Linked DNA regions of Homo sapiens. The protein of the gene in region 1 purifies or fractionates together with the protein of each later gene. This does not show direct contact. Each region holds a gene or a part of one and is shown in the gene's direction. Other genes may lie near its edges.

Region 1 (4,891 bases):
AAAAAATAGGTAAATCAATTTTAAATAAAGCAATTTAACAAACTCATATTTCCTTTATATTTTGGAGGAACTCCAAACTTGCAAGAGTAGAACAATGTCCTTACTTACTCTCTTGGGATATCTAAAATATCTTCAGTCCTATAAGATTCTTTTTTAAAATGAGGAATGATTCTTGTTCTGCTTATTTTTACATAACACCTTTATCATCAAACAAACTTCAAGATGTGTCATCTTTAGTAGGAAAACATATTTCCACCTCATCCTCCTGTTAGACTTCAGTCTACTTAAGCCTATTCTCAGTTTAATGGGATTAACAGAAGCAAATCACAATTTAAGACTATAGTTTACCAACCTTCCTTTCTCTTGTTCAGTGAAATTCCCCTGATAATCCATCAGTCAACCCCTGCTGGCCTTGAGAGGCGCTCTAGAAGGCAGGAGAAGGGCACACAGGCTCGCTTTTTGAACTGAAGAAGGGTTTCATTTGGTTTAGAATTGTCAAACTTCAAAAAATAAATAAATAACTTAAAGTGTTTTTCAAATCAGCCATAAGGCTACAAACCAGAAAGAAAAGTGTGAGGCAGGTGTTTGGGGCAGCTACCCAAGTTGCCTACATGGTTTCCAAGGTCCTTTCAACTCTAAGGTTTGTGTATCAGGCTGTCTACAGATCATACTGTCTCCATAAGATTGTCTAGTTCATTTTATGGCTAGTTTGAACAATCTGATTTTCTTTTTTACAATGGCAGGGGCTCAATCCATGTTAGGCTTCAATGTTGAGTCACCCAAGTTCTCCACAGAGAATAACCAACCAGCCGTAAGGAAGCTTCTTTTAGCAATGCCAGGATTCTGCAAAGTCCCTCCCAGCTTAACTTTTCTGACCTTGCGGCAGCAGAACAACAAAAAGAACAGCCCCTGGCACCCTCAGAAGAGCACAAAGCCCTCTGACAACCTGAGATGGCGCCCAGGTAGACTTCCCTCAAAAAAAAAAAAAATGGCAAGGCTGCTTCAGCAGGTCTTTCAGCCCCAACCACTCCACTCTCCGTCTCCTTTTCTTCACTGCTTTCCCCACCTCTCTTCCCCCCTTCCACTTTGACCCACCCCAATTTTCGTCCACTTCTCCCTCACCCCTTCCTTGTAATCTCTCTCCTTGAGGCATCCTGTGGATGTTGACTGTAATCTCCCCTGGAGGAGGGCTAAGAAATGCACCTCCAGAGGGTCTGTTTGCCATTGGAACCGCGTAGAGAAAGCGTGCAAACCCGTCAACTGCTCCCGCCGTTCCTCTCCCTCCTCAACCCAGGCTCGCTACAGAAGAAGGGAGTAGGGTCTGCCCCCTTGTTGTATCTATTTTCCCCTTCTCCGCCAGGGCTGTGGCCGGCAAGGGGCTCAGGAGGTGAGTCCCTTGCCCACACCTCCAACCCCGCTGGCCCGGTTTATAACATGGACAGCCCTGCCCTCTAGTGTCTGCAACCGGGAGCCCTAAGGCGCCATCAGCTCCAGAATTTCTCTTTTATAACCTAAGCAAGACCTGGAGTACCTCGGAGCTGCGACCTCCAGTTCACAATACCACCTGCCTCACACCCGGGCTCATCTTTTCATCCCACACCCACCACCCCCCTCTCCGTTCACGGTGTCCCGGGAGGCTGCGACCTGCGTAGATGATTTAGCAGACTGCCCCTGCCCATGCTCCTGCTCCTGCTCCTCCTCCTCCTCTTCCCCGCTCTCTCCCTCTCGCCTCCTCTTCCAGTCCAGGCGCCCAGACTCGGCGAAGCGCAGCGCCTGCCACCAGCGGTGCCTCGGGCTGCCCGGCGCGCCGCGCTCCCAGGTTCTGTCTCGCCGCACCCCGGCGGGCACTGGCGCGGGCAAGGACGCTGGCGGGGAGAACGCCCTGGGCTCAACGTACTCCAGAATCGAATGTTGAGAGAAGCAGTGCTCTGATCCAGCTCAGGAGAAAAAGGAGCGGGTTCCGAGTGAGACTTCTGGAGCCAGCTGGACGTGCCGGTTTGCCCAGTGCGGCGCGGCTGCACGCACCGTCCACAAGGTGAGGGGCGCACACCTTCCGGGACGACCTTGGCTTCCCTTCTTACCCCCACCCACTCCAGGTACTCCAGCTCTGGCTTGGGGATGTTTGCCAGCTTTGAGGCGCAAAGGCGGCGGGAGTTGGGATGCGGGGTGTCGGAGGGAGACTGAGGGTCGCCCGGGCACCGTGCCTGCACCCTGGATTATAGTACAGAGAGCATTTCTTGTTCAAACAATTCCTCAAATGTGTGAACCTGAGAATCAACATTGTGTATAACTGTGGTTTGAGCATTTCATCCTGCTTCCTTGCAAAAGGATTAGAGGCAGCTTAAAGATTAAATAGGTATGGAACGGGTGCTGGGGGGGGCCAGGGAAAACTTGAGTAGAAATCACAGGGAGGTGGTGTGCTCCAGGGACCCCGGAAGAACTGTGTGATTTCAAAGCCAGCTGATTAAAAAACCTTTGATTAGAAAGGACTGCACTGTTGCTCCAGCCCTCAGAAAATAATACTGTGCTCAGTCCTGATAAACAAAATGCCCAGGTGTGGAGGTAATGAGGCAGGCTCATTTTTTTTAAAATACAAAATAAATCTTGGAAGTAAGAGTTAAGATGAGAAGTTTGGTCTTAAGCCATCTCCACCCAATACTGCAAGGTGAGAGGCTGACCCCCTACCTAACGAAAAGGAAAGGAAATTGAGTCTAAAGGGAAGTGATTCCAGCTCCTATCACAGGATCATAGTGGTTTTGCATCTATATGTATATTTCTGCCTGTGCCCAGTTTTGGAAGAAAGGACCTTGTATTCAACCCAACGCTGCTTGTCCTTGAGTTAGAAGGATAAGGCAGATGGTGTCAGCATCCCAAGGTGTTTCTTCCTAACCTTTCTTATTGTCCTTCCTTGCCTCCTGCACCAAATCTCTTGGGGAGGGAGCAGCCCAGGAGGAAATAATAGATCGTCAAATGGGTTGGGGGAGCAGTGTTTTTTCCAAAATAATTTAGGCTCATTTTATCATTCTTATGTTTTCCCTCAAAGCTCTAAGCAGTACATCGTCCTAAGCTGAATTTAACATTGCTCCAGAATATATATTTATCATAGTTGTACATTCAGACACAATATGCATAACCTTAAACAGCCAGGATGCACTTGTGAATCAGGGGCTTCCCTTACTTAATCCTGCGCAAGAGAGGCAAAGCAGGCACGTGGGTCTGATTCCCTGTGCGGTCTCCTTCATGAGGAGCATATGTGAAATACCTTTGAAATACAGAGAAGATTGAGACAGCTTTTCTCTTTCTGGTACAGTTGCTTTCCTGCTGAATTAAATGAGATGACCCTGTCTTCAACAAATAAATGAATGGAGGCATTTGAGGCCCATTTAACAAATGCACAAAATATGCCTGCCTCTGTTTTTCCTCCCTTCAGAGCTTTAGCCTCCAGCCCACGGAGTTGTGATGATGAAGCCCACCTCCTAAGTGGGACTCAGCTCAGTTTCTGTATCATATTTAAAACAGAGTATGTTGCTTATTTCTAAAATTGCATAGCACCTCACCACTAACTATTTTGCTGCATAGAGGTATTTCATCACTAAGAGAGCTATATAGAGAAACTCACTCAAATCCTGATTCATCATTGTTGATAGAACTTAACTATTGTGTCATCATCACCTGACATGGGCTGCAGAAGCTCCAAGGATTGCTATAGATCTCAATTGAGACTTCTAGTAACAGAGCTAGAAAGGAGCCTTTTAAAGTGTAGCCATGACTCTGGTCATTAGGTATATGCATGTTCAAATATTCCCTTACGTGCTTGTTTTCGCTTTCATAACAATTTCCAGGGATGAAAACTTAGCAGATTATTTTTATAATGAAGAGTATTCAAATTAACAATGTGTATCCACCAGCTAACAAGTTTTAAATTCCACAGAAATCAGCATCACAAGCATAGTAAAATCAAGTTTTCATTCTTTCCTCTTCTGCCATAATGACTTCATTCAAGGCCTAGTCCCAGACCAAGTGCATGGAAACGATGGCTCATGTCTCTCAACATTTGCCCAAGGGAATGGTGCCTACCTTGCAACTCAGCGTGATGTCACCTTTATTAGCCATTCTGGTGTCTATACAAAATATTTGCTCCCCATTTCTTCTTATCGATGCCTGGTCAGCAACAATCATGTAAATAAGTTTCCATTCTTTTGAGGAAGATAACGAAGTCAGCGTTTTTCAGAAGTGGTGCCTAGGAAGAGACAAAATCCAGGACACACCTCTAGTTCAGGTAACACTGCAATATATTTCAATTTCCTGCTGCGTGATGGGGTTATTATTGAAGAGGGAAGTAAGGTATATCATTCACAGCACATTGTCCCCACCTGGCTCAAGCACCACCCATTCCCCAGGTGGGCTCAATATGCTACCCCCACCACCACCAAGATACCAAGGCTGCAAATGAAAAGTAGATCTCAGCCAGGCATGATGGGTCACACCTGTAATTCCAACACTTTAGGAGGCCAAGGCAGGAGGATCACATGAGCCCATGAGTTCGAGACCAGCCTGAGCAAAATAATGAGAACTCATCTCTACAAAAAAATTTAAAATGAGCCAAGTATAGTGGTGTGTACCTGTAGTCCCAGCTACTTGGGAGGTTGAAGTGAGAGGATCGCTTGAGCCCAGAAAGCCAAAGTTGCAGTGAGCCAAGTTTGTGCCACGGCACTACAGCCTAGGTGACAGAGCAAGGCCTTGTCTCAAAAAAAGAAAAGAAAAGAAAGAAAAAGAAAGTAGGTCTCTTTGCAGAAAGCCTCAGGCCCTGAACTTTTGTGTCATCTTCTCATTACTCAAGTCTAATTCCCTACATCTCACTTTTACACACAGATCATTTTTTTCATGTTTG
Region 2 (4,284 bases), on another chromosome or scaffold:
CTGAGTCATGCTCAGCCCTGTGCCCTCTGCCCACTGCTCCTCTGCTGTGTCACCATCTGGGCACGGGCCAAACAGTTCAGGGGCGACTCACAGCCCAAACTTCCGCCCCTGGGGCATACACTTCACTGCCTACAAAGACCCTCATTCAATCTTGAGTGCTGCTGGCCCTCTAAGACTTGAAACTTTATCCACATTTCACAGATGAGGAATCAGGCCCAAGAGCTCGGAGCAGTCAGTGGTAGCAGAGCCCGAACCCAGTCTCCTGCCTCTTAGCCTGGACTTTTCCCCAGAGTACCACAGATGGCCATTCCCATGATAGGTAGTGAGTTCCCCACCTTTGTAGGTGTTCAAGTGTGGCAGGGGCGTTGCAGAAGCAACTTTGGCATCGCATGGGGCTCCTCTTCATGGCTGCTTCCAGCCCTGAGCTTTCCTAGCCTTGGGGGAGATGGGCACCCAATTCCCACATTCCCCGGAGTCGCTATGTCCTTAAGCATCACATGGGTCTTTCTAGCCGCATCAGGCCATGCTTGTGGGCAGGTGGTGCCTCTATCTAGAAACCCTCTTCATAGCCTGGCTGTCTGGCAAGGTTCTTCCAAGGAACCTCCACCATGAAAGCCATGAATGCATCTTCAGAGACCCCTGTCCATGTGTAAATAGCTCAGTGGGCTGGATGGGAGGGAGCAGAGGGGGAGAGGGACCCAGCTGAAGAGGACTGGAGTGAACAGGGAGAGGCTGAGGGAGGTCAGGAGGGCAGGACACCCACCTCCTGAATCTTCAGGACCCCTTGCTCTCCCTTATCCAACAGGCTTGAACCTGAATAGGGGCATTCCTGACCCCATGGCACTTCCCCTGCCCCCCACCTGCCTAGAGCCATGGGCAGTGGGCAAAGCTGGAAGAAACCCTCGTGCACAGCTTCCTCAAAGCTGTACTTATCCTATGCCATGGCTGTCCTGGCCACACCTTCTGGGGGACTCTGCCACCTGTGTGCACACCTAGGGGACCAGGTGCACACGGTCTGTCCTCCAGCTCCTCTCCTGCCTGCCTCCTGGCACCTTAAGTGGAGGTGGTGGGAGCTGGGACCAGTGCAGCACCCTTGCCAGCCATGGTGGGGGAGGACAGCCAGTGTCTCTTCATGGAGATCCTGCAGCAGGTGGTGGCATGCCCCAGGGTCCCGTCTCTGTCTACCTACCTGGGTTTGGGAAACTGGAGTCAGAACCTTTAGTGATTGCGATCTAGGAAGGACGGTAGTGTTTGCAAACCACGTGAGCACAGGAGTGAGCAAGGTCCAACCCCGCCCCTGTTCCCTGGGCCGTGAGGCTTTGGGCCCTGTGGCTCAGCCCCTCTGAGCCTCCCTTTCCCTCTCTATGGAGTAGCTGCTGCCGACTCTCCATGTCGTTGCCAGGGCATGCAGGACAACAGAGGCAGCCCAGGGAAAGGAGTGCACCATGCTCCTTTGGATCCAGTTTTACGAGCTCTGTGTCCCTGGGCAAGCTCCGTGTCCCTGTGTCCCTGCTATAAAATGGGAATGATAGTACCTCCTCATAGAGTGGCCCTGGAAGCATGGGAGGCCAAGTGCATATCCTATGGTTTGCACTTGTACGTGGCTCCCTGCCCTGCCCCAGCTCTGCCTCGTGAGTCTCTGCAGACTAGTCCTCGGGACACACCCCACCCCCAGCCTGCTAGATCGCAGGACCCCATGGCCATAGGCACGTGCCCTTTCTCCTCCTTGCTTGACCTTGGAGAGCCCATGGGGAGCCCAGGTGGGAGCTTGGGGTCTGCAGCAATGGGAACGGGACCCACTTTTCTTTGCACATCTGCTACCTGGGCTCCCCTTAGGCCCGAACCACAGGAGTGGGCCTTTGAGGGTCTTGGGGGTGGTAATTTTGCTTTAATGTAGAGAGAAAATCCAAGGTTCAGTGCTCACAGATTCAGATGGAATCTCAGACATCTTCTAATCCAGCAGCCATTAAAGCTGTCTGTGGCCCCAGTGGCATAGGAAAGGCATGCGCTCCCAGGCTTCCATGCTGTGGGACTTCTCAGAGCCTTTATCGGGAAAACAAAGGGGAGTTTGCCTTGTGTTTCAGATCCTATCAGGCTATGCACAGTCTTGGGAACCGTTCTCTGGCCAAGCAGCCGGCAGAGGTGTGTGTGCTCCTGATCCTGTTAGATGCTGGAGAGTGGAGATGGCTCAGTGCTTGAACCCTCTCCATCCCCTATCCCCTACCCCTCACATAGCCTGAGTGGCACTTTTGGGTTGGATCTTCTAGATCTTCTATCAGGAATGGCTATCTAGTATCTATCAGGAATGGCTCCTTTTGGGAAGAGGTGTGGAGCCTGCCTGCCCTGGGTTAGAGTCCCAGCTCCGTCTCAGTCTTCATTTACTCATCCAGCAGTCACTGGGGATCTTCTATGGACCAGGCACTGTGCTAGGTACTGGAGATGCAGGTGGTGAGCAAGACAGGTGAGACAGCAAAGCTGAGCAAGGGATAACAGGTAAGCAAATGGCAGAGTCATGTCAATGTTGGGTGCCAATACGGGTAATAAATCACATGGAAGCGAGTGATGGATACGGAAGATAATTTTAATTGGGTGGTCATGGAAGGCTTCTCAGAGGAAGGGACATTTGAGTTGAGGCCTGAGAAGGAGGCAGTCAGGGAAAGGGTCCTGGAAAGGATGTGCTATGCTGAGGGAAAAGTGCACGCAAAGACCCTGAGGTGTGTCTGAGGACAGAAGTCTAGAGTGGCTGGAGTTGGCGACTGCAAGGAAGGGATGGGGTGGCGTAAGGCTGGGGGACGGGAGTAGGCTTGTGGTCACTGGCTTGTGATTTCAGCAGTCCTGCTGCTCCCTGAGCCTCAGTTCTCTGACTTACAAAATGAGCTTCATCATTTCAGTCCCCGCCCCGACCCTGGTCGGGAATGTTGTAGGTGTGAAGTAAGACAGTGCTTTGGCTTTTGGCTCTGGGCAGCAATGAGCTATTGCAGTTATTTTTATTATTACTATGAGTGGGATGTTTAGGGACTATGGGTGGGGCTGGGGAAGCTGTGCCTCTGTTTCTCCGGGTTGCTGTTGTAAGTGAGTGCCAAGTGTATGTAAAAGGCGTGGTGTGCCTCGTCTGTACCTCCCCCCAGGTCCCCTGAACCACAGCCCCTTGCCAGCTCCCTTTAAGCACAGGATCCTTTGATGCAACAGAGGCCGCCTTCTCCGGCCAGCAAGCCTTGTGAGCCTTTCCGGGAGAAGGTTTCACCAGAGAACAGCAAGTCCTTTCTTTGCTTTCTTTTCCTCTTCCTCCGGGGGCCAAAAATAGGGCCTGAATGGGACCCAGCTCTGGGCCTGCAGTGAGACAATAGCAGCCTCCTGACTGAAGCTGCCTCCTGGCTCTGCTCCACGGAGGGGCGGGGGAGAAGGGGAGTTGCAGAGACACCATCCCCTCAGCCCCAAGCCCCTGCTGCCTTTCCCATGGCCTCTGCCAGAAATCATCCCAAAGCCCCTTCCTCTGTTGGACTCCCCTCAGAATGTGATTGCCAGTGGGGTTCCCCACTTGTGCTCTGAGAAAGTGCTTGTAGCTGGTTGACTGAGACCCCAGGACCTTTTGCACCCCTGAGCAACCCCACCCTATCTGCTGGCCTGGAACCGAAAACCTCGGTGGGGGTTCTAACCCCTGGTTCTTTTCTGTGCCCTGTCTGGGGCGTACCACAGTTTTTATGTCCTTTTCCCTTTGACTCAGTGGGTATGAAAAACTTAGAGATCAAAGGAATGTGCCCTCTTGGAAGAGAGCGAGCTCCCTGTCACTGGAGATGTTCAAATAAAGTTGGCTGAGCATTGAACGTGGGGGAGAGTTAGGGATTAGCCAAGTGCCAGATGGACAACTGGTCTTGATAGCTTCATGTCCCAGAGAAAATCTCCATTTAAATTCCATACCCTTCCCTTACCAGCTAGGTGGCTCACAGCAAGTCACATCCCCCGAGTCTCTGTTTCCCAATCTGTAAGGTGGGTCCCCTAGGGCTAACCTTGCAGAGTGGTAGAAATGGATCTCCAAAATGCCCAGTGTAGTTCCTGGCACACAGTAGGAGTTTCAGAAGCTCTGCCTCTATTTTCCTCCTTCCCCAGACTGGCAAAAGAGAATCTGAGCTCCCAGCCCCGCCCCGGGAGCTCTAGAAGGAAGCCAGGAGGAACCTCCAGGCCTAGGGCTAACTCAGAAGGGGGATTCTTGGTAGGCTGTGGCAATCTGAGGAGGCTTCCTGGAGGAGGTGGACCCTAAGGAGTTTTCAGAGAAATATGATGCAC
Region 3 (4,284 bases), on another chromosome or scaffold:
AGAATGGTACTGGGAATGTCTTTTGCGACCATGGTTTTACAAGATACTTGCTGTGGTTCTGTCCATCTTCTCTGTGATTGTTGTGTGGTCAGAGTGCACATTCTTTAGCACTACTCCTGTCTTATCCCTCTTTGCGGTCTTCATACAGCTGGCAGAAAAAACATATAATTATATTTATATCGAGGTCAGTTTATTTTATGTCTGTCATAAATAGATGTCACTTCATAGTATAATCCTTAACTATTTTCTCCATGTATTTCTTCTAGTAAAAATGAAAGCAGTGAGGTTTTCTGCAGTGTTGTTATTCAAACTTCCAGAAATGTGCTTCATTATTTTACCCACACTATAGAAATTAATAACTGTATTTGAGGAGAGATGAAAAGTTGCAAGATAGTGCAGAAATCTGAGATTTTTTTTTTCTTTCTGTTTTTTTTGGAGGCAGAATCTTGCTCTGTCACCCAGGCTGGAGTGTGGTGGCATGAACATGGCTCACTGCAGCCTCAACTTCCCGGGCTCAAGAAATCCTCTCACCTTCACCTTAGCCTCCCAAGTAGCTGGGCCTACAGCCATGCACCACCATCCCCTGCTAATTTTTGTATTTTTTGTAGAGTCAGGATTTTGCCATGTTGCCCAGGCTGGTCTGGAACTCTTGCACTCAAGTGATCGTCCTGCTTCAGGAGGATCCATCACACTTGGCCCTGGGAATACTTTGATTATATTTATGCCAGTAAAGCTACATAACTTATAGGCCTCATGTGAAGAGTTGCCAAGGGAATGGGAAAACAGGCTCACATTAGAAGGTAGATTCGAAACTTTTGGATCTAGGATGTTAAACAGTTTGAAGTGTTGGGTTTTTTTCATAATCTTAGTGGGTGATTAAAAAATTCTCTATTACTGTATTTCAATTTTAGAGCATCAATAAATGTTAGCTAGAAATGAAGGCCAGGCTGGGCGTGGTGGCTCACACCTGTAATCCCAGCTCTTTGGGAGGCGAAGGCGAATGGATCATGAGATCAGGAGTTTGAGACCAGCCTGGCAAACATGGTGAAACCCCATCTTACTAAAAATACAAAAATTAGCCGGGCGTGGTGGCACATGCCTGTAATCCCAGCTACTCAGTTGGCTGAGGCAGGAGAATCACTTGAACCCAGGAGGTGGAGGTTGCAGTGAGCCAAGATCGCGCCACTGCACTCCAGCCTGGGTGACAGGGCGAGACTCCATCTCAAAAAAACAAAAGAAAAAGAAATGAAGGATAATGCCTGTAATTGTTAAGTGCTAAAGTCTGTTTGTTTTAAACAAACTGCTTTGTTTTTGTTTTTTTCCAGATTGCCTGCTTCCTTTCCATCTTCTTCCTAAGTATCTGTGTTTATTCTACTGTGTTCAGGATTCGTGTATTTAACTATTATTATTTGGCCTCACATCACCAGACTGATGCTTATAGCCTTCTTTTCAGTGGCATGTAAGTAGGATTATGTTTAGAAACAAGAGAAATGTCATCATTGAGTGTATTCTTATGGATCTTTTATTTTTTGTTGTTTACAGGTGTTCCACTAACATCTATATTTCTATCAGCTAATTGATTAGTTTCAAATATTAAATTGATGTTTGTTGATTGCCAGCTACTTCCTGCTTGAGGTTTAAGGTTAAAATAGGTGTGCTAGGTTAGGCTAGAAGGCAGAAGAAGCATACTTAGTGAGCCCGGATTTACCAACCAGAGATTAGCAAGCAGTAGAAACAATGGACAGTTTAGAGACTAAGTCAGACCTAGATGGTGTTCTAAGATTCAGCGGTCTCTCACTGAGTTGAGGAGGACTGAGAAAACCAACAAGAACAATTTTTCCTGAGGAATTCAGAGAGGATTTAGAGAGATGTCTTCAAGTTGGGCAAGATTGTACAATCTATTACCTGTTCTTATTGTTAAATGAGTCCTATTAGGTATTTATAAAGGATGAACTTAGATAATTTTATAGAGGAGTTGACATCCAAAGTATTTTTAAGCATCTTTTTTGTTGTTTTCCAAATAATTATGGACTCATGGGAAGTTGCAAATGTAGCACAAAAAGTCCTATGTAACCTTCACGCTACCCCCAGTGATATCAAAACCAGGAAATGAGAGTAAAACATTACTATTAACTACAAACTACAGACTTTATTTAGTTCTCACCATTTTTTATCCTTCATTCGTGTGTGTGTGTGTGTGTGTAGATTCCTGTAGCCACCAACACAATCAGGATTCAGAACAGTTCTATCACCACAAAAGAATTATCTCATATTATTTTTTTTTAATTCATACCCACACTTTATTCTCCCCAGCCCCAATTATCCAAGTGTGTGGGTTTGTAAGGCATTCTTTTTATTTGGACAGAATTGAACAACTTTATATCTGTGCTTGTCAGAATGACATATGTTGATACAACTTCAGTTCTTTTATGTACTGAATACAATTCACCTTGAGGATGTTACTGTCCTTGTCATGCTGTGAGATGGATTTTACGGATGGCTTAGTTGTAGGAGATGATACAAAGGCACTCCACAACTTGTGGGGATAAAGCAATGGCAGAAACCATAAAAGCAAGGAGCTTGAGGCTGTAGTCACGTAGGCATTGATGTGGCAATTTTCAGAATATCTCCCAAGTAAGTGAGGGCAGGTCACATTAAGAATTCAATATATATATAAAGCAAATAGATGAAAATTTTAGCTATAATTATCTGAAATGTTTTTAATACATCTCAGTATACTATAAAATGTATTTTGCTGCTTTACTTTTTATATACATATTTTTAAATGTTTGTTGCAGGCTATTTTGCCGTTTGACACCTCCTTTATGTCTTAATTTCTTGGGTTTGACCCATATGGATTCATCTATCTCTCACAAGAATACTCAACCAACTGCTTATACATCTGTAAGTACGGTCAGAAAATAGAATTCCTTAGGTTCACTATCTATATGAGGTGCTGTTATTGTGAAATTTCTTTTAATGCCAGCAGAAAAGTTCTATAGTGTTATTGGTAAAATTTTCTCTTAAAGATTGTATACGTATTACTATTGACTAGATAAAAGTGATTTTCCTTCTTTTATGATAAAAATGTTTTTTTTGGTTCATATATGTTGTCTAGCTGACCAGTATCAAAAGAACTGACCTATACTAATATTAACTTTATATTTGTAGTCAATGTATGTGATAATTTTGAGTAATAATTATATTAATTTTCTTTAAGAGAAAACCTCAATAAAAAGCAGATTTTAAAAAATAAGTCCATTTACTGCTTTTTTTCTACTTTTTAAAAAGTTCAAATGGATTGATATAACTGGTTATAGGCAAATTTTCTAATGATGGAAAGGAATGGAAATTATAGAGCTATTCCAATTTAACTTACTTTTTTCTTGCTCTTCAGATTATGGGTTCCATGAAAGTTTTATCCTTTATTGCAGATGGATTCTATATATATTATCCTATGTTGGTGGTAATTCTCTGCATTGCTACTTATTTTAGGTAAGAAACTTAACATTGTTTTTTCTTTTGCTCTTAAATCTGGATATCCTTTCTCTTTAAAGCTCTTTTAAATATTTACTGATTGAGTTTCAGTTTGTTTCATTGTAGCTTTGGAGAAGCTGGGGATAGTTTGAAGGGACTACTTGAGTGATCAGGTGCGAGTCTCCCTCTAAAAAATTTAAAGAAAAAAGAGGTAGAGTTATTATTCTATTATAATAAATAATACTATTTTAACATTATTCTATTTAGGCTAAAAAATGATAGGATTAATTACAGAATGTTAACTCTAAGTCCTGGCCTTTGACACTGACAGCTATCGTAGCCTGCAAAACACCCTTATGTCCAGCTTTTTTCTAATGACATAAATTAGCCTTAGAGCTTTCCAATAATTATTGCTGGGTGTCTAAATGCTTCAGACCATGGCCAGCACAAAGGGTCAGGTGAGGACCGATTGTAATCAAGCTGTACATTAAGATTAGAGGAGAAATTTTCTCCTGTGTCATAAAGTACATGGCATGCTGTTTTCATGGAATTAGAATGAATGGTAGAATCTAGGCAGGAGTGAGATTCAAAAGGGATTAAAGGATAGGTGTACTTGGCTTCTCGCATCTGTCTTTCCTTCTTTTTACATGTCAGGCCTCCTCATCCTGTACTCTGCCCTCTTTCATTGCTGAAGTGCTCCATAACATACCCAAAATACCACTTTTTCAAAAATACTTAAAAATGTTCATTGCTTACTCTTCTGAGAAAAATAAATTTTATCTACCCACTTTATTTAAATCTTCCAAT
Region 4 (4,232 bases), on another chromosome or scaffold:
AGGATATGATTTCAACATAATTACTGTTTATTTAAAATAAGAAAAACAAATAACTTTCAACCATTAAAAGGTTATAACACTTTAAAGGAAAGTTTCTTATTAAAGAAACTTTATACCCTATTAAGGGTATAATTTCAAAATAATTGCTTTTTATTTAAAATAAGAAAATATTCTTATTTCTATTTAAAATAAGAAAAATCAGTAACCTTCAACGAATAACAGGTTAAAGAATTTAAAGGTAAAAGACATTTCAACTAATTACAAATACTTTGTTTTTTTTAGTTGGGCTACATTTTACCACTCTAGGAATAGCTGTTAATTATTTTTTATATAGGGCATTTTTATGTATTTAATGTTGACAACTGACGTTTCCAATATACAAAAACTTGTGTAACTGAGAAAATTATAATAAAAATAGAGATTGAGGACATATTTTTAACATATATCCATGAGTCAACACTAATATTTAATATTTGAGATTTGAAAAATTATTTCTAGGGTAAGAAATTCTGTCACAATATAATATCTCTATATTGTGCTTTTTTAAGAGATAAATTTTTGATGAATTTAATGTTAATTAAATTTTATCTCAGCCTATCACCATCAGACCAAAAGACAATACAGTATTTTTCTAACAAGGAAAAGAAAATACATATATATATATTTATATATACAAATATATACGTATTTATATATACAAATTTGTATATATGTAATGTATGTGTGTGTGTATACATATAATTTCTCCTTTTTTTTTTTTGTAAGAATTGAGACAGGGTGTCACTATGTTGTGTGGGCTGGTCTCAAAACACCTGCCTCAAGTGATCCTCCCACCTTGGCCTCCCAAAGTGCTAGGATTTACAATGAGCCACTGTGCCAGCTTCCAACAAGAAAAATATTAAATGTATTGGTTTTTCACAGTGAAACTTAATTCAGTTTAGTTGAACCATATATGTGTGTGTATGGCATATATAAGATGAAAAAAGGAGAAAAAGTAACAATAATAATGATGGTTGCCATCATTCATTGAACACCTATAATGTTTTAGGCATTATACTAGCTGATTTACAAATATTGTCTCATTTGATGCTACATTTATATTTCTATGAGGCAGATGTTGATTTCTCTTTGACTGCTGAAGAAACTGAAGGTCGGTCAGGTCAGGTGATTTGCCCAAAGTCCACACTGTCACTAAATGAACATAGATTGGTATGACTCCCAAGCCTGTGAGTTTTTGACCGTCATATTCTGCCTCACTATGAAAAGTTTTTTTTCAATTTTTTTTAAATCAAAAGAAGTAGTATATGGAGAGAGAGGTGAAAATCCATGTTTGCTCTCTGCAGTTTCCAAACCATTCATGACGTGTTATTTTTGTACTGGATATAGTCATTTTTTAAAATGCTACAAACTGTTCAAAAGAGCATGAACAACATGATAACTCCTTATAATTTTGTTGTAAGATAAATGACTAAAATTATGTGGGATATTTAATTTGGATAAGTGGAAATTCTATCACTTGATAAGCTCTCTTGAAGAATAATTATTTGAAAGATTGGACTTAATTCTGTATTGCCTGAAGTGTAAATCAGAGGTCAACAATTAGATTGCAAATCATGAAAAGCATAACTTCTAATTGTTTAGTCTTTTTAGGGAAACAAGCCCAGAAAAAAAGTAAGATTCTCATTCATTGGAGATAAGATTTCTATTTATCAAAGATACTACACAAGAGTTAGATAGCAAGTAGTTCAAATGTCTTTTAAAGGTATCTGACATCTTTAAAGCTCTGTAATTTTTAAATTCTAAATTTTGTTACAGCTAATTTTTAAAAATTAATTGCTAAGTCATGGTCAAGTATTTCTGATGACTTACATGCTGTCTTTGGTATATTTTAAGTTTCTAAACCAAAACTACTATTTGACTCTATTACACCCTGTTTTAGAAAAACATTTGAGTTATACAACTTACTAAAATGTATTTTAGCGGTGATGTTTTGGAGCACTGGTAATATAGTGTTTAACTTATTTTCTATTTTTTATCCCTCTATATTCGTGAAATTACTTCTATTTGAAAAGTTTTCCGCCAGTGATAAAAAAAGGCTGAGCACTATCTGTAAAAATTTTTAAGGTGTCCACTAGGTGGAGATATTGTGCTACATTTCCAAGTGTTGTAGTTAAACTTTTATTAGTCTGAATTAAACTCTTTTATAGTGTTTTATTGTTTTAAACCACAAAGATTTATAATCATTTATATCTATTTATCTAATGTTATTCAAATGTTTTCTGCGTTGTATGAAGCTAAGATAAATGTAAAAAAAACAAACAAAAAAAACCTCACTTTGTGTTTTGTAATCATTAGACGATTTAACCTAATATATCTTCCCATATGATATGATCTTTGCATATGGCATACTTCATTCATATGACATAGTTAGAATCTTTTCCCACAAACAATGAGTGATGATATCTCATTTGAAAACTCGTGTAACATTGTATCAGCCACTGTTATAAAGTGATTTACCCATGTTAGTCTCATAACAACTCTATGAGATCAGTACCGTACACATGGGGAAACTTAGTATAGAGAGGTGAAGTATTTTTTCCAAGATTACAAAATAACTGTCTGAGCTGGGATTCGTAACCAGGCAGCCTGACTCCAAAATCAATATTCTTAACTCTATTGTTATGATGGAGAAAGGCATGAAGTCTACCTTCAAATTCATGGCATTTTAGAAGGAAAAATTGTCGCAAGTAATGTGATTATACTTCCTAGTTTTATAGGTCAGAAAAATGAGGTCCACACTAATTTTGCCTCTTCCACAGGGAGATAGATTCTCATCTACCATTGTGTCTTTTGTTTCTGTTTTTGTCATGATACCTCAAATTGATATATGTTGTAATTATGAATTTAAGGAAGTAAAAAAATAACTCAGGGCTGGAGCCTTCAGCCATATTAACATACATTGACATAAAGACCTTTGTTTTAATATGAATGATTCCAGTTAACAAATGGAGAAATAGTTGTTTGAAAATTAATATTTAGCTTCTCAAAAGAGACTCCTGTTTGGAAGCAAATTGTTGGTTTAACAGGACATACTTTAGATATTTGAAAAATTCTCTGTGGAATCACAATCTCTTATTTTTAAGAATGTAGGAATATGTGTTCTATATGCTTTTAAGTTATGTATTACATACTATTCTCTAAAATAGAAATGTTTATTTGGCTTCTAAAAGTCATTTGTGAGTTGATGTTATTTAAAACTGCTTTTCAGTCAACTTATTCTTTATAAAAAAGTTTGTTCAAATAGCATGTTTTTATTTTGTTTCTAAATAAATTCATGTTTGATAATATTTTATAATGTGTTGTGTCTATTTTTTTTTTTTTTTTATTGATCATTCTTGGGTGTTTCTCGCAGAGGGGGATTTGGCAGGGTCATAGGACAATAGTGGAGGGAAGGTCAGCAGATAAACAAGTGAACACAGGTCTCTGGTTTTCCTAGGCAGAGGACCCTGGGGCCTTCCGCAGTGTTTGTGTCCTTGGGTACTTGAGATTAGGGAGTGGTGATGAGTCTTAAGGAGCATGCTGCCTTCAAGCATCTGTTTAACAAAGCACATCTTGCACCGCCCTTAATCCATTTAACCCTGAGTGGACACAGCACATGTTTCAGAGAGCACCGGGTTGGGGGTAAGGTCATAGATCAACAGCATCCCAAGGCAGAAGAATTTTTCTTAGTACAGAACAAAATGGAGTCCCCTATGTCTACTTCTTTCTACACAGACACAGCAACAATCTGATTTCTCTATCTTTTCCCCACATTTCCCCCTTTTCTATTCGACAAAACCGCCATCGTCATCATGGCCCGTTCTCAATGAGCTGTTGGGTACACCTCCCAGACTGGGTGGCGGCCGGGCAGAGGGGCTCCTCACTTCCCAGAAGGGGTGGCCGGGCAGAGGCACCCCCCCACCTCCCAGACGGGGCGGCTGGCCGGGCGGGGGCTGCCCCCCACCTCCCTCCCGGACGGGGTGGCTGGCCGGCTGGGGGCTGACCCCCCACCTCCCTCCCGGACGGGGCGGCTGGCCGGGCAGGGGCTGACCCCCCCCACCTCCCGGATGGGGTGGCTGCTGGGCGGAGATGCTCCTCACTTCCCGGACGGGGCGGCTGCCGAGCGGAGGGGCTCCTCAGTTCTCAAAGGGGGCGGCTGCCGGGTGGAGGGGCTCCTCTCAGACGGGGCAGCC
Region 5 (4,284 bases), on another chromosome or scaffold:
CTACGCCCAGTTAATTTTTTGTATTTTTTTTTTTTTAGTAAAGATGGGGTTTCATCACGTTGGCCAGGCTGGTCTCAAACTCCTGACCTCGTGATCCACTCGTCTTAGCCTCCCAAAGTGCTGGTGTGAGCCACCACAGCCACTGCACACGGCTGTCTTTTTATTTTTATTTTATTGAGTGTCAGGATTTCACTCACCCAGGCTGGAGTGCAGTGGTGTGATCGTGGCCCACTCGATCTCCAGGGCTCAAATGATCCTCCGATCTCAGCCACCCAAGTAGCTGGGATTACAGGCATGCACCACCATGCCCACCTAGTTTTTTTTTTGTTTGTTTGTTTTTGTTTTTGTTTTTCCATTTTTTGTAGAGACAGTGTCTCACTTTGTTGCCCAGGCTGGTCTGGAACTCCTGGCCTCAAGCGATCCTCCTGCCGAGTCGGCCTCCCAAAGTGCTGGGGTTACAGGCATGAGCCACCACATCCAGTCCAACTTACATGTTTTAAAAGTAGATTTCTATTCCATTAATTGGAGACATGGCTTCAAGGCCAGCCTGGCCAGCATGGTAAAACCTGTCTGTGTGAAAAATACAAAAATTAGCTGGGCGCAGTGGCGAGCACTTGTAATTCTAGCTACTTGGGAGGCTGAGGCAGGAGAATTGCTTGAATCCAGGAGACAGATTTTGCAGTGAGCTGAGATCACGCCACTGCACTCCAGCCTGGGTAACAGGGAGACGCCGTATCAAAAAAAAAAAACAAAAAATGGAGACGTGGGGATAAACTAATTTTTTTTCAAGAAGCAAGTGAGTCATCAAGAAAACATGATTTTAACTTGGGTCTTCTGATTGTCAGAACATTAGGGCAATCAGACAAAGAATATTTAAAAGTCTGTAATATTTCCATCTGTTTTCTAGCACCTAACTTTACCCCCAAATAGATCATTAATGTAAGGAATACTTTTTGCATTTGATTTTTCATTTTATGTCTTCAGATAACTTATTTATTCAGCAAATACTAAGTTCAGTACATAGATAAGTAGGTTGCCGTTGATTACTGTTTTGAAATAAATGCCATAATAAAGGATTAAGCAGAGTTTTGTGGATATAGTTCTGCCTGGAATAGTTGAAGAAAGCTTCATGGAAAAAGTAACCGCTAAAACCGTATGTCAAACTAAGAGGCTGGGTTCAGTGGCTCACGCCTGTAATCCCAGCACTTTGAGAGGCTGAGGCAGGCCAGTCACTTGAGATCAGGAGTTTGAGACGAGCCTGACCAACATGGTGAATCCCTGTCTCTACTAGAAATACAAAAAAAAATTAGCTGGGTGTGGTGCTGTGCACCTGTAATTCCAGCTACTTGGGAGGCTAGGGCATGAGAATCGCTTGAACTTGGGAGGCGAAGGTTGCAGTGAGCTGAGATCACACCACTGCACTCCAGCCTGGGTGACCAAGTAGACTCTGGAAAAAAAAAAAAATCTAATAAAAGGCAATGTATGGTACTGTTTAAAAAAAGTACACGATGTAAAAGGATAGGAGAGTTTTCACAGAAGAGGGATCAGTTGGCAGAATTAGAAAAAACATCTTAGCCAGGCATGGTGGCTCACACCTGTAGTCCTAGCACTTTGGGAGGCTGAGGCAGGTAGATTGCCTGAGCTCAGGAGTTGGAGACCAGCCTGGGCAACATGGTGAAACCCCATCTCTACTAAAGTAAAAAAAAAAAATTAGCTGGGCATGGTGGTATGAGTTTGTAGTCCCAGCTACTTGGGAGGCGGAGGCAGGAGAATCTTTTAAACTTGGAGGTGGAGGTTGCAGTGAGCCGAGATTGTGCCACTGCACTCCAGCCTGGGCAACAGCAAGACTCCCTCTCAAAAAAAAAAAAAAAAAAAAAAAAAAAAATGTTGACAGACCAGCCTGGGCAACACAGGGAGACCTAGTCTCTACACAGAAATAAAAAATTAGCCAGCTGTGATGGTGCTCCCCTGTGGTCCCAGCTACTCAGGAGACCTAGGTGGGAGGATCATTTGAGCCTGGGAGGTTGAGGCTGCAGTGACCCGTGATCGTGCCACTGCACTCCAGCCTGAGTGGCAGAGCAAGACTCTATTCAAAAAATTAAATAAAAATTGTAAAGCTGAGAGAAAGTTAATGGGATGTATATTTTGATGTAGAATATTCAAAGATATTGCATAGGAATTGGCTGGACCATGTTGAGGGATATGTGAATGCAAAATTGGGGACTTTTTAAATGCTCTGTATCTTATAATTTTGTGATTTTTACTGCTACTCGTTCTAGGTTGTTTTAGCTTATTAATAATACAGTTTGGGCATGTGAGGAAATAGGTGCTTATTATTAAGTTTTGTGTTCAGTTGGACTGTTTGCTTTTTTTCCCCAGGTTCCATATACATCTCTATAATCAAGATAGCCTCATTGCTTGTGTTCTGCCATACCACGAGACAAGAATATTTGTGCGAGTCATACAGCTTCTAAAAATTAATAATTCAAAGCACAGATGGTTCTGGTTGTTGCCAGTTAAGGTATAATTGCTGAATGACATATGTCTGTAATCATTACAGATCTTGATTAAGGGATTTAATTAGGAAAAAATAAGTCATTGCTCCTGGGGATAGTCCAGATAACTACCTCCATCATTTTTATTTCCTGACTTCCAATTGAAACTATTATTAATGTTAATAATATTTAGCTTTTATTTAGTATCTGACATCAGGCTAGGCAATGTACATTATATTATCTTGGATTATCACAAAACTTCATTTTTACAGATGAGGACAGGCTACTTGCCAAAGTTCACATAACTATAAAGTGGCAGAGTTGAGATTTGAACCCAAATCTGATTCCAGAGTCTGTGCCTTTGTATCGTACCATGCCGTTTGGCATTTTAAATTTGGAACTGAGAACTTAAAAAAAAGTTGAAGGTGAAGAAAGGCAGAAAATACTTACAAAAATTAAAAGGATAAGGATAACTTCAGGGGTTTCAAGAATTTACTAAAGTTGTGAGGAAGATGCTAGGAGTTAATTTACAGACTAAGAAAAGGATGCTTGTATAACAGGAAGGGTCTGGGTAAGAAAAGACAGCATGCTATTGTAGGAAAACCAACTGACTAACCGTTAGCACTTTGTTTGCAACATATGGTGGAGGAAAGTAGATGTATGTTGTTAGCAGGAACTTGACTGCATGTTGGGCATGGTGATCCAGGGTAGGGGGGGAGGCAAATGGGGATGAAGGTAAGCTAACAGATCACGAGGCTGTGCACATTAGGCTGATGATGGTAGTGGGGTCAGTGTTCAGAATTAGTAAGATAGGAGTAATGAGGACTTTTTAATTAGAAGGAGAATTTAAGAATCTGAACGTAAAGCACTTGAACTAAAGAATGTTGGAGAAGGCCAGCCTTTGATAAAGCTCATTAACTGCTCTTCCCAACATTCACTCTGCCCATAGCATCAAAATTATTCTTCCTCTAATCTACCTTGGATCTTGCTGCTCCCTAGGCACTCTTATTGCAGGTAGCCAAACTCCACTCACCTACTAAAGTTCACTTAAAATTCTCCTTTCATTTATTTAATCAGTATTTATGGAGCATCTATTACATACCATGTACAACGCTAGATGGTGGGAATAGTGGTATAAGTTGTGCAGTTTCCTAGTCTATTTCTGTTCTTAGTGTTATTGTAAAGCAATGACAGAAGCGTATCATAGTGGCTCAGAAACCAAATCGAACCAGTAAAGTTACTAAGAATCTAGAGAATCCAGATTTTGATAAATACCTTTCAAAATGTGACATACGATAAGCAAACATCTTTCACTAAATACCTCTGCCCTCATTGCTGACCTTCTCTTTTGAATTTCTAAGTTTACATGATTTTATGTGTTAATTTCATCACCACCACCAGTTATAAGGAGAGATTATATTTTTTATTTATGAATTGTAGCAGTATGAAGACATTACTAGGGTAAATGCTTTAAAATAAGGATCAGTTGATGAATGTTGCTAGTAGTTTGTTCTTTCCATCAATAACAGCAATCTGGAGTGCCGTTAGCTAAAGGAACTTTGATTACCCACTGCTACAAAGATCTTGGATTCATGGATTTCATTTGCAGTTTGGTGACAAAATCTGTGAAGGTGAGCAGTCTGTTTCATGAGTATATAATTTTATGAAAAGATTGCTTGCTTTGAATGAAGAAAACATACTAAAACATTCCCTAATAACAATGATACTTTGGATAAATTTATTTTGTTAAATGGTCTGGTGTTTTGAAGCAGGAGCAGTTTGAGAGTCC
Region 6 (3,380 bases), on another chromosome or scaffold:
TCTGATTAGCTGTATCTGGTATTAATTGCATGTTAAAACACTGGAATTTTTAAAATTGAAATTAGATCAGTCATTCTTTTCTTTTCTCAAGATATCTCATGGCTGACACTGAAGAAGAAATGTAATTCATAACTTGCACTAAATGTATATTTTTTTTCTTAAAAATTTACCATTCTTATTTATATTTTTATGGATTAAAATTTATAAAATACAGATCAGTTAATATTGCACTTAAGTAATTTTACCTTTTTAATGTGATTTTTATAGAATAATTCAGACTTACAAATACAGAGATATGAACAAAGTTTACAGTGGGAACAAAGGTTTAAAAAAAGGTTGTGGTTCTCTCTCTGTGATCCAGTGTGCACATAAACCTTTCTCTGATCTTTCACTGCCATCCTCTGGATTATGTCTTCTGACCTGTCCATTTTGACCCATTAACTGGAAAGTTGAAAAACTACATTAACTGGAAAGTTGAAAAACTACATTACTTTGGAGAATAAAACCGAAAGTTCGTGTATACCTTCTTAAAAAAAAAATCAAACCAAAAATGTGAAAACAATAGAATTGCAAAGATAGCAGTTAAAATTTTAATCTGAAAATAACCTTTGAATCTCGGGCTAGGTTACGTCCATATTTGAAGTGGTCAGTGATGGTTTGAACATTTTTTGCAGGATGAGTGAAAATGCACTGGATTATATTTGGGATTTTTGTTTTTGGAATTGTCTGTTTTAATCACAGCCTTAATTCACAATTGGCAAAGGCAGTTTACTCAAAGGACTGGGCTAAATATTCTGTAATTATGCATTTTTGATAGGAAAATGAAATTTTTGCAAACAGACATTTTCTTTTTTTTTGGCTGGAGTGCAGTGGGGCATGGTCTTGGCTCACTGCAGCGTTGACCACCTGGGCTCAAGTGATACTCCCGCCTCAGCCACCCAAGTAGCTGGCACTACGGGCACACGCCACCATGCCCAGCTAATTTTTTTGTATTTTTAGTAGAGATGGGGTTTTGCCATGCTGCCCAGGCTGGTCTCAACTCCTCAGCTCAAGCAATCTGCCTGCGTGAGCCTCCCAAAGTGGTGGAATTACAGGCGTGGGCCACTGCGCCTGGCCCAGACAGACATTTTCTGAAACACAACTGGCAATGAGCTGTTTTTACATTTTGAAAGTGATTCTTCACTTCCTAGTTCTTAATTATAGTATACCTATTAAGATCTGTAAGATCCTGAAGACATAAGATCATGAAGCCATATAAGAATGAGGATTGAAAGTTGAGCAAAATTTTCGGGATTTTGGGAAACATTCTTAGCTGTGCTATCTGCCTAAAATTATTCCTTATTACTTCTCTCCTTTGACAGACTTCAAGTTTTCTTCATAGCCCTTTCAAAGTTTTTTGAGCCATCCAGAGTAAAATCATTTCTAAATGATAGTTCTGTATATCTCCAACTCGTCTTAAGTGTATTTGCCTGTGTGCAACGTATTGCTAGACTATGAACTCCTCAGCATGGCTGCTGGATAACTTAATTGTCCTGAGTTAATAGCCTTCAAAGGACAAATCGGTTTCTTTGCAGATAGCTTCGTAAAACTTCACATGGAGTTTATTTTATCATATTTCCCTTTTTTATTTCTGCTCCTCCTTTAATTGCCCATCTTGCTTCAGAGACTGACATTTCAGGGTGGATATTAATTAAAGCATTAATTTTGTTTTTTGGTATATTTCTATCCCTAGTATTTCTATCTTACTGCTAAAATACAGGAAAAGTGCCGTATTTTTAATGCATTTAGTGGTTTTCTTTGGTGTTATCTGTTCCATTTTTCTTTTTCATACATTGAAGTGTGTCTCCTTTTCAACCAAAATAATGAAATAGTGGAGACCATGAAATTGTTGTGCCTGGCTAATTGGCAAATTAATTTACCAATATAATAAGTGTAGCGCCTTGTTTGAATACCCTTTTTGAGAAGGTATGATGAGAATGGGCAAGGGTGTCAGCATCTCTTCTTCTTAATAATTAATTGTTTTCAGTTTTGGTTCACGAAGAATGCTTAGTTAATCTGTAATGTTGCCTAGAGCTGTATTTATCTGTTTTTATTTATACTAGTGTAGTAAAGCTGCATATCATTACAGTAAAAACGACTACTGTGATGAGTTAATCAGAAAATCTATTAAAATCTATATGACAATGTGTGGTTTGGCCTTTAATTATATCTGTAACAGTCCTCCCTCTTCACTGCTGCCCTACGCAGTGTAGGCCGATATGCCTGGCACAGGGAGCCCCAAAAAGGTAATAATTATAATGCTTCTCTCAGGTTACAAAGCATTTCTACACTTTGCAAGCAAGGAGCAATAGAAGAGTAGATAGATGCTGGATTGACAGCAGGATGTTCATACCACCAGCAATGGTTTAGCGCCCCCATTTGTCAGTGAAAGCTGCAGGTCCACAGAAAACTGATTTCATTTCAGCTCACTTTCAAAAGTGATTTTTTTTTTTTTCGCAAGAAAAATTACGCTATTTGCATGAAAAGAGGTAAAACGATTTATTTACATGTCTTTAAAAAATCACCTTGGACATTTGCTAATAGAACTGCCAAAAGAGGGTGGTAAGTAACAACCTTTGATTAAGATGTGGTCTTTTACTATTAAGCTTTTAGTAAAAAGGAACACACTAAAAGTTCAGAGTAGATCATTTATATTCACTGAGTATTTACTGAGCAATTACTGGGCGCCAGGCGCTATTCTATGTTCTTGAAGTTTTCATTCCAGCAGGAAGAGAAATCTAGAGTATGTCAGATGGTGATAAATATGGATTAGTTCAGCAATTTTAAAAAAGGATTTTTATGTACTGCACACTGTTACGAATATACAAAATCAGTCAAGAATCCTGTTATAGTTTTTGTAATGTACAAAAAGTGAAGGTGTGTGCACCCACCCCATTTTTATAGAGGGTGATCAGGGAAAGCCTCAGGGATAAGGAAGCATTTGAGCAGAAACCTACAGAAAGTTAGAGAAGGACATTTATCCGTGAGAAAAAATGTTGTAAGAAGAGAAAATGCTATATACAAAGGATTCTCCTGCCAGGTTCAAGGAACACTGAGTAGATCACTGTGGCTGGAGAGGGATAAGAGGGAAGAAAGTGGTAAGGAAAGAGGTTGGGGGTGTAGGCATTTGATTTTTATTCTAAATGAGAAGCCAGTGAGGCAGAAAAGTCACATAATGTGACCTAAAATATCTCTCAGACTCCTTTGTTGGGAATAGACTATAAGGGGGCAGGGGTGGAAGCAGGCTACCAGCTAGAAGGCTCTTGGAATAATTCAGGTGAGATGTGGTAGAGATCTGAACCTGATTGAAGCTGGTGGAGGTGGTGAAAGCAGTTGGATTC
Region 7 (4,284 bases), on another chromosome or scaffold:
TATACATGGCTCCTCTCAGGTGCATCTCATGTAAAAATAAATGGAGATTTTAATACTTAGAAAAGAGTTACTGTAGTGACAGTTGAGATTTCTTTCCCTTCCCTTCCTTCCCAAATCATAAGTATAAGGAACACTGTCTCTTTAGGCACAGCCTCCTTTTTTGATGTAACATGAGAAAAGGGATTTAGCTCCCAAGTAATGAATTAAGATGTGGATATTATTACATATAGTCTTACTTACAAACCGCAAAATATTACTGCCCTTCTATCTGCATTTAAGGTTTCATTCAACACTTGCAATTTCTCTATAGACAATGTAAAGCATTGGCTATTGAGCTGTAGATAAGTCTTTATTAAACTAAAATTAGCCAAAAACTCTGAGATGAAAGGTGTTTTATCCCCTTACTGCTATGTGTTCTCTGTCGAACTATGGAATATGGCCCCGGGATAAAGGACATTATTTGAGCTATTAGATTGTTGCATGTAGAGTAATTATATGTTGTTATATATACTTTCATAGATTCCTTGATTTCAGAGTAAGATTTACTAATTTCCTTTGACTGACAGACATGTTAACTTCATTTCAGATGCAACAGTCTCTTACCATGGGAAATGAGTTTTAAAAGGAACGGCCACTTATAACTATTGGTCTTCTGTAATATTGAACAAAATAATATTTGGTTTTTTTCCCTTACATTTTACACATGAATACAGTAAAATTGATGTTTTCACTTTTTTATTCTGGAATTTTGTAATGGATGAGCAAAAAACAATAAAAGGACTGAGGATCAGAAAGCAGAAACAAACATTTAGGTTTTTGCATCTCGGGCAAGAGTATTGACCAGATGGAAGGGAATAATTATTTTCTAGTAGCTGTCATGATATGTAATAAAGGTACTAATAGTAGCTTATTTGGGACTAGGTGGAATCTGAGGTGACATTGCCAGGAAAATAACATACAATGGTTATGGGAATAATTTTCATAAAGATAAATAACTTTAAAAAATTCACTTTTTAGCTTTTAGAAATGTTATCTATACATACCACATATATTGTTGTCTTGTTAAAATTTTTTATTATAGAAATTATCAAACATAGGAAAGTAGAGAGAATGATATACTTACTGGCCAGTTTTGACAATTACCAACTCTCGTGGTCCATCACATTTCATTTATATCTTAACACAAGAAATGGTTCTGTTATAAATGGGGACATAGGACAGGTAATCGAATCGAATTTTTGTATTTGTATTTTTCAGAATACGGTATACTCAATAGTGTCCAATATCTAATTAAATCTGAATGGTCAGTTTTTATGTTCTTCGTTGATTCTTTAGTGGCATATACATTTTAATTTTTCTGGTGGTAGTTTGTGTATTTTACAGCAGGTGCCCAAAGATAGTGTCTCTCAAATTTTGCTGTCTTCAGAAATCACAGGTATTATTATTAACTACTTTACAGTTTTCAGAATGTATTTACATATGACCTCATTTGATTCTCACAATAATCCTGTGTGGTGAGTAAGGCAGACAATTGTACTTTTTTTTGTTTTTTGTTTTTTGTTTTTTTTCTGGTAGGCAAAGTGATTTGTCTAGGCCCTAAGGTCATATAGCTAGCAGCTTTTTTAGCCCAAACTGGACTTTAGGTGGCTTCTAGATTTTGCTCATTGCTCTTCTCATTATACACGTTTATGTAAGTTTATGAAAGTTATGTATGGAAAATCAGTTTTGATCAGAGTAAATTTAATAGAGAAATATGAATGGGTTTGTTTGGGTTGAGCTTTATAAATTTAATCATTACTTATATTTGGTGTAATACAAACAGTTTGTGTTTTGATTTACTTAACAGCTGAGTGAATGTGAACGTATCTGAAATACTATATTTTTAATATTGTGGATTTTTTTAAGTTAGGAATTTTGATTTCAAAGAACTGTTGGCCTAGGGGTGTCTTAAATCTTGAATAAAAATAAAATGTGCTGTACTAAAAGTTTCTTCTTTAAATTTCTGCTGTAACTTTTTATGCACTTGTTTTTATACTATAACATGTTTATTACCTAAATCTCTTTGAAATATTCATTTGTTCTGTAATGAAATTTAGTTTAAAAGGTTCCAAATGAGGAGGTTTTAGTTCCTGAAATCCAAAACCTGGTTATAAATCTCACAAGAAAGGTGTGGTTCTCCAGCATTAATGTGCATGAAGAATCACCTGGGGGAGTTACTGAAAGTGCAGATTCCTTGGCATTGCCCCTGGAATTTTGATTCAGCAGATTTGAGGTGGGGCCAAATGCTACAGTAGTCTGCATTTTGAGAAACATTGACATTGCATTTATAACTAAGTTAAAGTTACATGGTAGAGATACCTAAATCAGTAGCAAAGTTTGATTTGTTGATGTCGATGGTTTTTGTGACAATCCTAGAACTGATAAATTGAAAATATTTCTGTTATCTATGTATGCCCAGTCTTTCAGAAGATCCATCTGTGGTTACTTAAGTTACTTATTAAGCACTGTAAACTATTAGAGAATGTTCTTTTATTTTCATGTCTTAATGTCTGCCATTTTCAAATGACTTAGACACCAGAGTTTATATTCATAAAAATAATGCATGCTGTATCCTTACAGTAGTGTGTGTTTATCCTTTAGTCTAGCTCTTTGTTAGAAGAAAAGATCGGATATTCCTTCAGACTAAAAGGACATAAGTTAGTGGATAGATAGCTCTCTTTAATTTTAGTTAACAAGCAGTTGCTCTTTCAAAAACAGCAAGTAGATCTTCCAAGAATATTAGTGATAGCATACTAATTGATAATTTACTATTTTATGCATTAAAACAGAAGTTACTGCTGTCTCACTTAAATGTTAAATAACCGTTTGTGTAGTTCACCAATCTACTCTGACTTTTGGAACTATTTTATCTAATACCATATCCACGTGAATTACCTGCCTTTAATAATTTTCCTCTTTAAGACCAGTTTTGAAATGCAGTTGTTTTTTGCTTCATTTATAACAGTATAGCAAATAGCCTGTATCTGCATTTAAAATATATTTTATAATAAAATTAATTTCAAAGCAGGTTCATCTCAAGACTGTTGGGAACCTGTTTTTGTTTGTTCCAAAACTTAGTCTTGTTGGCTACACCTTAAGGTTTATTTAGGAATCATAGCTTGTAATTTACTAAAGCTTATGGTAATCTAAATTAATAAATATTTTTGGCAGAGAGGTCCAAATAAACTGTGGGCACATTTTTTTTTGCCATATTTTTAAAAGCTATTTTCTATTAAATTTTTCCTAGGACAGTGTCAGCTATTCCAAATCGTATGTGGTGTTTTTAGTTATAAGAATATTTGGTATTTCTAAGTACAGTGACTTCCAACAATATGGTTTCTTAAAATATGGGATACCTGCTTTTGTAGTAATACTACTGTCACCTGGGCCTCTGAGGGAACAAATAAAGGTAGTGTTGAATGGACCAATGCTTGCTTACACTGTGAAATCTGAGATTACACTGCCTAACTGTAAACTGGCATGACTACTGTACAGACCTGATAAATTTAGGAGTCAAATTTATGTTTTCTGAAAAAAATAGGTCTTAAAGAAGATTTGACTGTTTAACTTGAAAGATGCTTTTTAAATACTTTTTTATTAACAATGTGGATCTATTATTCATTGTATTAACCCTGTGAGTGAGTTCTCTCTCAGGAGGATTTTAAATAATAATCTTGTACTCTCAAAACTCTCAGATCTGCTGCTTTAATCTACCTTTCATATTTGTGCCAGAATTTTCTTTTGTTTTTCAATAACCTATTTTAAACCACAGTTTCTTCACTAAAACTTTCATCTTTTTTTTATTTTTCTCTTTATCAAAATACAACTTGACTCTGAAGGCCTTTTATAAAGTAGCTCAGTGTTTTCTAAATTGTGTTTTAGAATGCTGGTTCCAAAAAATATTAATAGGGATTTCCTGGGGGAAAGAGGCACAACCAAACTCCAGGATATGCTGGTTTATGCAGTTTGGAACTTCTCTGGTACTTCAAGGTGCTAATAAGGGCTGAATCTAAATGTGGCTAGTGTTTTGTCCTCTCATTTCACAAAACTCCCTTTAGTGGAACATCTCACCTTGTTAACTTTGTGTACCAGGATCACTGCTTTGCACAACTCCAGGGGATGCTGTTCACATACAACACAAAATGAATTGTGTTTCCTGGAGTTGAGAGCTGTGTTGCATACTGTAGTATTGCTGACTGTCCACTGTGTGACGGTCTTAGAGTCTGGTGGTCCCTCATCCTTTTG

What was found.
Region 2: the proteins of HTR1E (region 1) and ADGRG1 purify together in Homo sapiens (co-immunoprecipitation; one large-scale study listed by IntAct). This does not show direct contact.
Region 3: the proteins of HTR1E (region 1) and LMBRD2 purify together in Homo sapiens (co-immunoprecipitation; one large-scale study listed by IntAct). This does not show direct contact.
Region 4: the proteins of HTR1E (region 1) and ALG10B purify together in Homo sapiens (co-immunoprecipitation; one large-scale study listed by IntAct). This does not show direct contact.
Region 5: the proteins of HTR1E (region 1) and HEATR1 purify together in Homo sapiens (co-immunoprecipitation; one large-scale study listed by IntAct). This does not show direct contact.
Region 6: the proteins of HTR1E (region 1) and CLCN3 purify together in Homo sapiens (co-immunoprecipitation; one large-scale study listed by IntAct). This does not show direct contact.
Region 7: the proteins of HTR1E (region 1) and ATP2B1 purify together in Homo sapiens (co-immunoprecipitation; one large-scale study listed by IntAct). This does not show direct contact.

Annotation. Positions count from the first base shown.
Region 1 is NC_000006.12:86,935,789-86,940,679, forward strand, and holds the start of HTR1E (5-hydroxytryptamine receptor 1E), read left to right. Parts: upstream 1-1,739; 5' UTR 1,740-2,035; exon of another isoform or gene 2,036-2,096; intron 2,097-4,891. UniProt on the Homo sapiens protein: G-protein coupled receptor for 5-hydroxytryptamine (serotonin). Also functions as a receptor for various alkaloids and psychoactive substances.
Region 2 is NC_000016.10:57,634,346-57,638,629, forward strand, and holds part of ADGRG1 (adhesion G-protein coupled receptor G1 isoform b precursor), read left to right. Parts: intron 1-4,284. UniProt on the Homo sapiens protein: Adhesion G-protein coupled receptor (aGPCR) for steroid hormone 17alpha-hydroxypregnenolone (17-OH), which is involved in cell adhesion and cell-cell interactions.
Region 3 is NC_000005.10:36,113,635-36,117,918, reverse strand, and holds part of LMBRD2 (G-protein coupled receptor-associated protein LMBRD2), read left to right. Parts: intron 1-2; coding exon 3-184; intron 185-1,325; coding exon 1,326-1,459; intron 1,460-2,798; coding exon 2,799-2,904; intron 2,905-3,397; coding exon 3,398-3,495; intron 3,496-4,284. UniProt on the Homo sapiens protein: Recruited to ligand-activated beta-2 adrenergic receptor/ADRB2, it negatively regulates the adrenergic receptor signaling pathway. May also regulate other G-protein coupled receptors including type-1 angiotensin II receptor/AGTR1.
Region 4 is NC_000012.12:38,326,375-38,330,606, forward strand, and holds the end of ALG10B (dol-P-Glc:Glc(2)Man(9)GlcNAc(2)-PP-Dol alpha-1,2-glucosyltransferase), read left to right. Parts: 3' UTR 1-3,347; downstream 3,348-4,232. UniProt on the Homo sapiens protein: Dol-P-Glc:Glc(2)Man(9)GlcNAc(2)-PP-Dol alpha-1,2-glucosyltransferase that operates in the biosynthetic pathway of dolichol-linked oligosaccharides, the glycan precursors employed in protein asparagine (N)-glycosylation.
Region 5 is NC_000001.11:236,597,720-236,602,003, reverse strand, and holds part of HEATR1 (HEAT repeat-containing protein 1), read left to right. Parts: intron 1-2,379; coding exon 2,380-2,521; intron 2,522-4,024; coding exon 4,025-4,126; intron 4,127-4,284. UniProt on the Homo sapiens protein: Ribosome biogenesis factor; required for recruitment of Myc to nucleoli. Involved in nucleolar processing of pre-18S ribosomal RNA. Required for optimal pre-ribosomal RNA transcription by RNA polymerase I.
Region 6 is NC_000004.12:169,721,002-169,724,381, forward strand, and holds the end of CLCN3 (H(+)/Cl(-) exchange transporter 3), read left to right. Parts: 3' UTR 1-2,672; downstream 2,673-3,380.
Region 7 is NC_000012.12:89,701,895-89,706,178, reverse strand, and holds part of ATP2B1 (plasma membrane calcium-transporting ATPase 1), read left to right. Parts: intron 1-4,284. UniProt on the Homo sapiens protein: Catalyzes the hydrolysis of ATP coupled with the transport of calcium from the cytoplasm to the extracellular space thereby maintaining intracellular calcium homeostasis.